2 separate regions of the Homo sapiens genome follow, and region 2 is linked to region 1. A link means that fine-mapping ties the variant in region 1 to the expression of a gene that starts in the linked region. Tissue or cell type: gastroesophageal junction. Region 1 holds a variant in brackets; the other region holds the start of a gene. All regions are shown on one strand. Distances are between the middles of the regions.

Evidence for each region.
Region 2: GALNT18 starts here. The variant in region 1 is fine-mapped to the expression of GALNT18 in gastroesophageal junction (GTEx, PIP above 0.99). The same link has a PIP of 0.9 or more in aorta and esophagus muscle.

Annotation. Positions count from the first base shown.
Region 1 is chr11:11,569,962-11,575,329 of GRCh38, reverse strand. The region is part of intron 1 of GALNT18 (polypeptide N-acetylgalactosaminyltransferase 18); the gene reads left to right. It overlaps GALNT18-AS1 (GALNT18 antisense RNA 1), which reads right to left and starts at 5,365. Exons shown (of 2, transcript XR_007062595.1): 1 at 5,133-5,365; 2 at 1,553-1,805. RefSeq lists an enhancer at 4,527-5,026. The variant G/A (reference allele first, on the strand shown) is at 2,895.
Region 2 is chr11:11,618,798-11,624,165 of GRCh38, reverse strand. GALNT18 (polypeptide N-acetylgalactosaminyltransferase 18) reads left to right here and starts at 2,161. Exons shown (of 11, transcript NM_198516.3): 1 at 2,161-2,807. The coding sequence starts at 2,573. RefSeq lists silencers at 1,859-2,218, 2,969-3,048, 3,069-3,138 and enhancers at 1,721-2,221, 2,339-2,418, 2,629-2,678, 3,419-3,648, 3,719-3,858 and 1 more.

The DNA.
Region 1 (5,368 bases):
CCAGGAGGAAGTAATAGCTTGATCAAAGATGTGGCAGCCTCAAAGCAGAGGCTGAACCAGGGATGGCAGGCTCTGGAGTGGGACAAAGGTGCCTTGGTCCTCCTCCCAGCCCCACACCCCACCCACAGAGACTGTGACCGTTCAGTGGCTTACAGATGCAATGGACTGGCTTCCACTGCCCCATACCCTGCCAGGAATTAGTTGTGTTCATGGTAATGAGCTTGGACCCTGGAAGCTCTAGACTGGCTTAAATAAACCTCTCTTAAATGTTGGATTTATGATGCATTTTGCATAATAGTAGCAGTACTCAGCCAGGCACATGCTAGATAGATGAACCCAAATACTTAAAGAAACCTGGTCCAAGAACACCAATGAAAAATACCTCTTGATAAATCATGACTATTAATTTGCATGCTTTGGGTCTGAGAGGCTGGAGCAAACAATTCTTTAGCCTCCGGGGAGTGTTGAGCAGCAAACCTTTATGAACGCTCAGAGTAATTTATACTAATGCTTCTGCTCTGTCCTTGCTTTCCTAATACGACTCCTTTGCTGGGAGAGATATTAAATTGGCTCCATCTGTTTTGTGTGGATCTCTTAGCTGTCCTGCAGAAGGGATTCCCCTTGACATCAGCTCCTGCCTGCACCCAGAGTGTCTTTTGCTTCCTTTTAGCCATCTGGTAGGTGCTGGTAGATGGACTTTCATGATAGGAGACAGGCCTCAAACCTAAATAAACCTCATGTGACGTCATGATGGCCATGATGCTGTGGATTCCTTTAAGTGGATGAAAGCCCAAGCTAGAAGCCAGGTGTGATGCTTCTTCCTGGAAGATAGGACATCATGTGGCATAGCCAGAATTTGGATGTAGTTAAGAATTGAGGGAGGTTCTTATGTTTTGATATCAAAATCAGACCTTTAAGTCCAGACCAGGGAGATGGTTCACCCATGGTACCTATCCAGCCCTCAGGTTCTCTACTCCCCCAGTCTAGGGAGCAGATTTGACCAGATTTCTGGTCTGAGCAGGGCTGGGATTCATTTGTAGCCTTCAGAAGCCATCTACTTTCTCCAGTGCCATCTATAAAGTGTAGTTCCAGTTTTTTGGGTCTGACCTAGTGTGCAGTTGTCCTATAGGCAACCTCAGGGAATGGTAACCTCTCTATCACTCATGTACTGATAGAACTTCTTATGAGGCAGTATGTACCCTTCCTCTCCCATGGGGCATGGGGAGCCACATACCTACAATAATTGACTTGCCTAGATTGTCCTCTGATTGTTGAAAGATGCTACAGTGTCATGTGGAAAGCTCAGGCTCAGGGGCCTAGATTTGAATGTCAGCTCTTTCTCAGAGTAGTTAGGTGACCTTGGGCAGCCATCCTAATTTCTCTGAACTCTGCCTTCTATAATGAGATGTTGATAGAATGAATGACCCCTCAAAATGCACCAAATGAAGATGGTGCACAGAAAGCCCCAGCACAGTGCTCAGCACCCCGCCTTCTGCAGTGGGAAGGATCGCCGTCCAGCCTCGGGAAGTCACCGTCGACGCTCATGCATGGGCATCTTCCAAGTGGGTTTATTGAGACCATGATGAGGATACAATATAGGAGATAGGATATCCCCTTCCATCTCATGAAGCTTTTGGCTGGAGAGAAATTCTTTCTCTCCTCGGAGATCCTGCTGTTTTCTAAAGATTGGTTCATAGCAGCTTCTTGTTCTCCACCAGCCTCTTGCTGATCCAGCTGGCACCTCTTCCTGGGTGGATCAAGGCTCCTGCTATCCTTTCCCCTTTGCTGGGCATCAGGTTCTGCATCTGTAAAATAAGGAAAATAAGACCTAGTCTGGCATGGTTGCTGTAAAATTTTAATATCGTTTGTGAGCAAGTTCCTGGCACCAAGTAAGTGCTCAGTTAATTGTGGCTTTTCTCCTTGGCTTGGCTGATACTTAGGTGGGCACATGTACCTTAGTGTAAGAGAAGGAGCAGGCAGAAATCCCTTTTATTTCAGTCTGCCCAGCCTTCCCACAGGCACTGTGATGCTGCGGCCCCACCCGGGGACAGAGAGCTCCATCTTCAGTATTGAAAGCTGTGTGTAGGGAATCTCTGGGACATCCATGTCAAGTATGAGTCAAGGCCGCCCACCATAATGAACATGAACATGCTCTCTGGAGGGGCGCTGTAGTTCAGAAAGGCAGGGTTTTGGAACCAGTTCAATGTGAATTCAGACCCAGTGTCCACTCCTTGCTGGCCCTGGGTTACTTTCATTAGTATCTCTGAGACCCAGGTTTCTCATCTGTAAAATGGGCTAAGATAACGTCCTCCTTCATGGGACTACTGTGAGGACTAAGAGAAGTGACCACTTGAAAGAGTTTTGCACAGAGTAGGTGCTCAGTAAATGGTAGCACCCTCTCCTCTTTGTCAAATGTACAAATTTAAGGGGCCATTGTTTTAAGACTTCTCAATATTTTTGGTCTCCAGCCTTGGCAATTCAAAATGGCAACTCATGCCCCAGTTGGAGTTGTTACTGCCATTGTGTTTTTCTTCTTTCCTGTGAGCAGAAGCTGGCGCCTGCTTCTGCATCCTAATAGTTGGCAGGAAGGCGAGGGTTGCGAGGGCCATCTGTTCCTTGTCTTCCTCAGAAGGGCACCGGGCAGCCATGTTGAATGTTCAGGGGTCCTCCTGCACCATTGCTCTGTGTAGAACTTCACATCCCAATGCTGTCAGAGAGGGACATAGCAGGAAAGCTGAATCTAAGACAGCTTCTCACACAGACACAGCACTGGCCAGGAGCGACTGTAGCGGAGCCAGGGCCCTGACTCATGCCCAAGTTCACATCCCAAGCTGGGTGTCTTTGGATTAGCTGCCTAAACTCTGTCTCGGTTATTTACCTTTAAAACAGAAATA[G/A]CAACAGTAACACACTCATACAATTTTCATGAAGACTAAGTTATTCAGGCAAAGTGCTTCATCTGGTGCTGACAGTTGATAAATGTTAATTCTTGTTATTATTTTACTCATACCACCTCCCTTGATCCCTGAAAGCCACCCAAGGAGCAAGCAGGCCGTGTATTTGTGTACCCCTCTTCTAGATAAAGAAACTGAGGCCGAGTGGTTACGTGGTCAAGGATCCCACAGAAAGGAGTGGCTAGGCCTGGATCCCGGCAAGACACTACATGCCAACAGCATCCACACCACTACTCGATGATGCCCACGCCCTGCGGCACAGGCCTGCTTGCACAGGGAGAGCTGGAGAACCAGGAAAATACAGAGTCCTGTGCCACACCTCAGATCTGCTGAATCATGCTCTTCAGTGGGGGAGCCTGGAAATCTGTATTTGTAAAGTGCTTCCCAGGGAATTCCTATGCCCAGTTAGTGTGGGGTCTGTGGTCTACACTGCTGGGCATACAGCTCACTGTGTTTCCCCAGGGCAGAGGGACAGGAAAGGGACTCTGGAATGAATAAACACCTTCACAGTCTGTAGCCAGGCAGATACTGTCGTCAGTAAGTTTTAGAGAAGCTTGTGGAAATGCAGACATAGGGTCACTTTAACACACACCAATTTTTTTTTCCAGGTCATTGGATATCTTTCTAGATAAAATAACCTCATTACGTGTTATGGGATTTGTGGAGAAAGTCTATTTAAATAGGATTGAAACATCCTTTGTCAAAATATTCTTGTCAATTAGCCTGGACATGGCTAATTGACAAGAGGTGGCCAAAGCCAGCTCAGCCCATTGCAAGGGCTCCTGGACATGCGGTTGATCTGCACAGTGGGCCTCACTGCCCAGGAAGAGGCATGTCCCACCAGAAAGCTGGTGTTCACTGGGAACTCTGACTTTGATCTGACCTAGTCATTAGAGGACTAGAGCCTTGGGGGGCTTCTGGAAGCACAGGCACCCGGACTCAGAGAGCAGAGCTAATTTTGAAGAGTTAGATTTATCACCAAATAACCTCATTTCCCAGCCTGCTGAGACACCTATTGCAGACTCATTGGTTTTCTGTTTCCACCACACAAAGTCAGGGGTTGATTCTCCAAAGACATGCCCTTGGGACCTTTTCCTTTTGTGTCTGAAGGTAGCTATACACACAGCCCAAGGGTCAGGCTGCCTGGATTGAAATCCTGGTCCTGACACTGACTAGCCAGGAGCTGTTGGATAAACTGCTAAGTTAATCTTAAGCCTTGATTTTTTTCATCTGTAAAATGGAAAGAATAAGACTGACCTCATTAGGTTGCTGTGAGGGTTAAATGAAGGCAAGAAAGGAAGCAGGCAACAAATTAGGAGGTTCTTAGGGTGGCCCATGGTGACTCAGTTTAGCATGTTGAATCACACACAGTGTGCTCAACCCAGGAAAACTTGGGGCCCATGAAAAACACTCAGTGGATGTTAACTGTTACTAATACCTCATGTCTTTAATATAGCATGGGTTTAACTGGTTGGTAAGAGGGAAGATGTGGGGATAATTTGGAGAGTAACTCTTTACAGGCAAGTAAATTACCTGTTCATTCCATTGTTCAACAGTGTGCTGAGCCCTGAATGTGCCAGGGACTCTGCTCGTGCTGGGGATGCAATGGAGACCTGAGATCATTGCCTTTTCACAACACTTGGGCTGAAGCCTGATATTAAATGGGTCAGTACACATTGCAAGAAGTGCAGTCAAGGCAAAAAATGGAGCGTGTGAGAGAAACAAGGTGTAAGTAGGGAAATAAATCCTTCCTGAGCTGGGGTGGCCAGGGGGAGCTTTGAGACTGTGATCTGAAAGGAAGAAGAGCTGGTTTGGTGAATTGTGGAAAAAAGCTTTCTAGGCAGAGGGCAGGGTCCCCCAGGAGGAAAAGAAAGTATGTTATGGTGTGTTCAAGAAACCTAGGGAGGCCAGTTAAGGGCAGGGCAGGGGCCGGACGGCCGGATGAGGCTTGGGTCGTGCGCAGAGGCTAGATCATGTGAGGGCTGGTGGGCTAGCTGTAAGGAGAGGGAAGCAGATATGCACAGTGCAAGCCCAGCCAGGGCGTCTAAGAAGGGAGGAGACACAGGTCTGCAGTGCTATCAGGTTGTTCTGGCCACGGCATGGAGAACAGAGCGGGTGGAGGGCAAGAAAGGAAGCAGGCGACAAATTGGGAGGCTCTTGGGGTGGCCCATGGTGACTCACTTTAGCACGTTGAATCCCACACGGTGTGCTCAGCCCAGTGCTAAGCTCTCCAGGGCAAACCATGGTTCCTGAGATGGAGTTCTCTTTTCCAGCCAGTCCGGGGCTCCGCCTTCTGGACACTCCCAGCCTGGCTGAGCTCCCTCACGTCTCTGCTTGCAGAGGAAACAGGCTCTTTCTGTGTGTTTTCCCAGCCAGGAAAAGTCCAAGCCACACTCCCTCACTTCCTGAGTGGCCTG
Region 2 (5,368 bases), 49 kb before region 1:
GCCTGTCCTCAGTAAGGTATTGTCTACCTACATTTGATACATGGGAGAAATTGAGCCCTACTGACTTTTTGAAATGTGTCCAGGCTCTCATAACTAATACATGGTGGATCTGGGATTAGAACCCTGGAGTCTGCCTGCACCTCCAGAGAAAATTCTTTGAACAGGTCAACTCAAACCTGTGACTTTTCAGAGAGGAGAACCTGTTCAGCATTCTTCTTTTGTTGTATTCATCCCCTCTACAGTTACACATTATCTTAGAGGATCAGCTGTACAAAATTTAAGATCACACAATTCACTTTGTTTTCTTCTTGACCCTCATTTTTTTAAACTTGGGATTTAATTTTTTTCCATTAAGAATGTGAAAAGAATGAGTATTGCCTTCTCTTTCTAGTCCTGTGGTGGTTTAGGAAGATCCCAAGAAGGGCTGAACTTCCAGGGCTCCTCCTGGGAGAGGGGGCAGAACAGAAGGAAAGATTACACCTTAGCCTGTACTCAAGGGCATTGCTTGTAAGTCTGTCCAACCAGAAGAAAGTTCAGATCCTTTATTTGTGAGCTGGATTATACCTCTGGAAGAGAAAAAAGGGAGAGACAAGTTTTACTCCCTCCTGGAGGCAGATTTCTCTACCTTGATTTTTTCAGAAATTGTGTACATTCTCTCCTCTCATGTATGTATCTCCTACATACCATACACACGATTCTTCTCCCCCTTCTATACCCCAGCCCACGCCAACCCACACCCACTGTTCTCTCTTCCAGCTATGGATCAAGGGAAATCTTCCCGGGTCCCTAGTTGGTATCTGTTTTCATAGCATCTTTGGGGAGGTTTTGTAAACAAAGCATTGGTAGAAGGGCCCTTGGCTGATGGGGCCATAAAGTGCCCTTTCTTTGGTTTTGTGCTCTCCCTCTCTTGTGGGGCCAGTCATTTGAATCCAGAAGATATCCCAGGATGGAGCTGCCCTGAGTATTTCTGTGGCTGGTTGGAAGGCTGGCACACAACAAAGTGGGCATGCAGCAGGCTGCCTCCCTGGCTTAGGCCAAAAAAATAAAGCAACTCAGAGATGGAGAAGAGGCAGGAAATCTATGTTGTAAAAAGTCTTTGTTTAAAGGAATTCCGTTCAGGTGCTGAGAACGGGGTGTTCAGCAGAAGAGGATAATATGAGTAAACATTGGCAGTAAGAACAAACACAGCAGTATCACTGTCTGCGTCTGGCCTCCTCCTGTGCTCAGTCACAGGTCTCTCCCACCGCCCTCTATGATAGCAATCATAAACAACATGTAGAAGGGCTTTACAGTTCACAGACCTCAGTTCCCCTCAGCGGCACTTCCTTGCAGGGTTTCTTTATGCACTGGATGACCCTGGTTCCACATAAATGAAAACTGGGCTTAAAGGACACATCCATGTCCTGGGAGCTGTACAGACTTAAAGAAAAACCTAGATAGGGGCAAAAATTGGGGCAGGCGGTGGGGGTGGGGGGTGGGGGGTGGGGGGGGGGAAGAAGTGGTCGAGAGAGTCATCTAATAGGTCACCAATGTTGCTTCTGGGAGGTTGCCGGAGGGTTGGCTCCTTTCAGCCAGGTTTAGGGCCAGGTCTGGACACACTCAGGAGGCCGGTGGCTGAAGGGCAGAGGGCAGGGTGGAGGCCCAAGTGAGGCCAAGGAAGGAGTGGATGCCGCTGGGGCTGGCACTTCCTTGGCTTCTCAGCGTCCTGGCAACCAAGAAAAGATTCCAGGAGTCGACTGGTGGCACCAATGCGAGAAGCCCCGGGCGGATGAAAGAAGCTGACCCGTGCGAACCCCCCACCCCCTCCACAAAACCAGGAGATTCCTGCCCAAGAGCAAGAGATGGAATTCCCCTAACGGAGGAAGCTGCCGACCTAAGGGCTGGGACTGGCAGCGCGCCCTCTCCGGGAGCTTCAGGTCTGGGGCAGCCTGTGCAGGCGCGGGTGGAGGCCCGGGCGCGTCCCTGGGGGCGGGAGCCAGGGGCGGCCAGCAGGTGGGGCCTGGGAGCTGGACTCCGCCCCCCGCTCCCTCCCCGTTGGTCCGCTGCCGCTCAGCACCGGCCCCTCTCCCGAGCCGGAGCGCGATTGGTGGCAGCGCTTGTCGCTCGGAGGGGGCCGGGCCGCTCTGCTTCGCGGCTCTCCCCGCCGCCGCTGCCGCTGCCGCTGTTCTCCTAGCAGCGCGGGCCGGTCGGACCGCCAAGGCAGCCGGCGCTGGCGATGGGAAGCGGCGTGGCCGCCGACACAGGCAGTGGCAAAGTTTCCCAGACGTACACATCTGGACGCGCGGCTGCCGGCTACCCGTGACCCCTCTAGGAAGGGTTCAGGGATTTTTAATTTGGAAAAAAATCCACCTGGTTTCCTTTGTCAAGGTCTCTCCGGGTGGCCAGCGGCAGGAGCTGCAAACTTGGGCACGGCGGCTACACCGGCAGCGGACCGGGCTTTGGAGAACCTCGGGACTCAGGTGCTGAGGTGCCCAGCGGCTCCGGACGTGCTACGGGGTGCGAGCGCGGGGGAGTTCGGGGCGCACGACAAGGAAGGGCCCCCGGGAGCTCTATATGGAGGAAGGAGCCCAGAATGGTGTGCACCAGGAAGACCAAAACTTTGGTGTCCACTTGCGTGATCCTGAGCGGCATGACTAACATCATCTGCCTGCTCTACGTGGGCTGGGTCACCAACTACATCGCCAGCGTGTATGTGCGGGGGCAGGAGCCGGCGCCCGACAAGAAGCTGGAGGAAGACAAAGGGGACACTCTGAAGATTATTGAGCGGCTGGACCACCTGGAGAATGTCATCAAGCAGCACATTCAAGGTACGGGCGCCCCGGAAACTTGGGTCGCCCATGAGGCCCGGGAGTGCCCCGCGCGGCGCGGGGTGCGCTGGGGCTGGTGCGCATCAACTCAGCCACGGCGGGGCTCTGGGGCCGCAGATGCGTGGTAGTCGTGGGGCCTGCGTGTGAGCTCCTGCCTGCGTTCGGGACCTTCTGTCTGCGGCCGTGCGCTCTTCCCCGGGGCACACGTGTGTGCGCAGGGCTGCACGAGCGGATGTGTGCAGCTAGCTGGCGGTATGGGGGCGCGCTGCGCACGTGTCCAAATGTGCGTGTGACTCTGGGCTGGTTGCTCGCGGGCTCTCGGGATCGCACACAAGTCCGGCTCAGAGTGTGTGTGCATGTGAATGTCTGTGTGTGTACAAGAGGGAACGCGCGGGCAAACGAGCTTTTTTGGCCACTGTAGGCGTCAGGCGAGATGCCCGCGCGGCGGCCCTGACTATTGGCAGTTAAGACCCGCAGGCTGCCGGACAAGCGAGGCTAGGAAAATTGCGTTGTATCAGCCCCAGCCCCAGTCTTGCTGTGATCCCGTTGGTAGGCGATAGGGAATGCAAGGAGCCCTCTGTGGTTGAAAAGCCGCTTGAACCTATAGCAGTCCCTACCCCCACCACAGCCCGCGGGTCCAGGACCCTCTCCAGGAGCAGGTGTCAACGCCGGGAAGTAGCGCTGGAGTCTCTGTCCACTGTGGTGATGACTCCGCCCAAGACTGGAAGAACACGCCCTGGGCTGCGCCTTCCCCGCGGAGCCGCCCGGGACCGGGTGAAGGCCGATCCCTACTGTAGCTCCACTCTCAGGCCCTGGGAGCAGCCGGGGCTGAGCAGACCTGGGTTGGGTCTGAAGTGTAAGGTTACGCTGGTTGGGTGCGCTCCAGACCAGCGCGGGGGTCCAAAGGGAGGGTGGGGGTTGCAGGGCGCTCTCCCGAGGCGACCTGGTCAATGAGCTGTCATGGGAGGGAATGGAGTTCCGGGCGCCAGGAGCACTGGTGCCGGGTGTGCACACACACACACACACGCGCGCGCGCGCGCGCTCACGTCCACACTTCCTCCCCTCCCCGCGCCCCCTGCTTTCTTCCAGGTGTGTGAGCTTCTTAAGGGCAGGGCCGAGCTTGGTTCCCCTGTAAACCTAGCAGGCCCACCAGGCTCAGGGGCCAGTGCATGGCAGACCTTGGCAAAATCGAATTGAACTGAAGGCTTACCCCCCACCCCCCCGCCAGGAGCACTCCCTTTTGTTTACACGTGGATGTCTGAATTCCAATCCTTGCACCTGCTGCTCTTGCCAGAGTAGAGATGGCTCCTCCGTCTGAATTTGGTGTTTCCCCAGGTGTCCAGAATAGTTCCTTTCCAGGAGGGGAAGGTTCAGGGAGGTTCAGGTGAGTGCAGGAGAGGCATCCACATCCATAGTGCTTCCTGACTAATGACTTCAAAACAAGCCCATGGCTTCGGCACCTTCCCAGAAAAGAGGGACATTGACAGCTTCTTCTTCAGACCTGCCTCTGCCTCTCAACCTGGCACTGGGCTTGAAAACCAATTTACCTATCTGTGGGTGCCAGTTGCTGTTATTTCTTACGTGTCCTTTTCCATCCCATAGGTCTTGATTGACTATTAATCAGCAATAGAAGTACAGTGTTTCCCCCAGGGTGATTCAGAATGTTCCCCAGGAGACACAAAGCCATGCCTTACTTTGACATTTCTAGTTTGCCGACAGATTTTGAGATTTTCATTCACAGATTCTGTGTGTGTGTGTGTTCCTGGAAAATGATTCTCTTGTGCTTTTCTTTCTGGTCAGGCAGGAGGTGAGCAAGGTACTGCTTTGGGGATGCTTTCAGGGGATGCCATTAACCCCTGAGCCTGTAACGGAGTGGGTGCCAGTCATGTGGAATGTGGACCATGTCACATGATTTCTAAGGTTCCACATGGAAAAGCATGATGTTGAAGTTGAAAGGAAGCATTGTGATTTTTCTCCCCGGAAACTTTATAACTATGTGTTGTTCAGCACTTTCAAATCTATACCTGAAAAATTGGAGAAGATAGGTTAAAAAAATAGGAGACAGGGTCCCTAAAACACGTGTTGTTCCACTTGTACACGTGCAATGACCCCTGTGGGTATTCAGAAATAACCACAATCTCGACAGAGGGCCAAAGCTGCCACCTATAGGAAGGTAGGGAAGGGTCAGTGACTTGGAAAGACTGGAAATGAGGCAGGCAGGGGCAGAGGTTACCAGGTTGGCTGTGCCATGATGGTGTAGCAATGACCAACAGTTCCCTTTGCCATGCTGGGGCCATCCTGAGCTGGGATTTAGGAAACAGAGGTAAAGGGCCTATAAAATTTGGGGCTGGTCAAGTGCAGCTCTCTGAAGGCAGAGGGTGGTAAAGGACAATAAGATCAAGCTCTTGTGCTTGATGGTACAAGCTGTTTATGTGTAACCCACTGTCAAGTTCCCTCTAGTCAGCATAGCCCTTTGAACAATCCAGTTTACTTTGCTGAACTGGAGGGAATAAGCGGTAATAATAATAAGAGCTAAAATAACATAGCACCTAGGATATGTC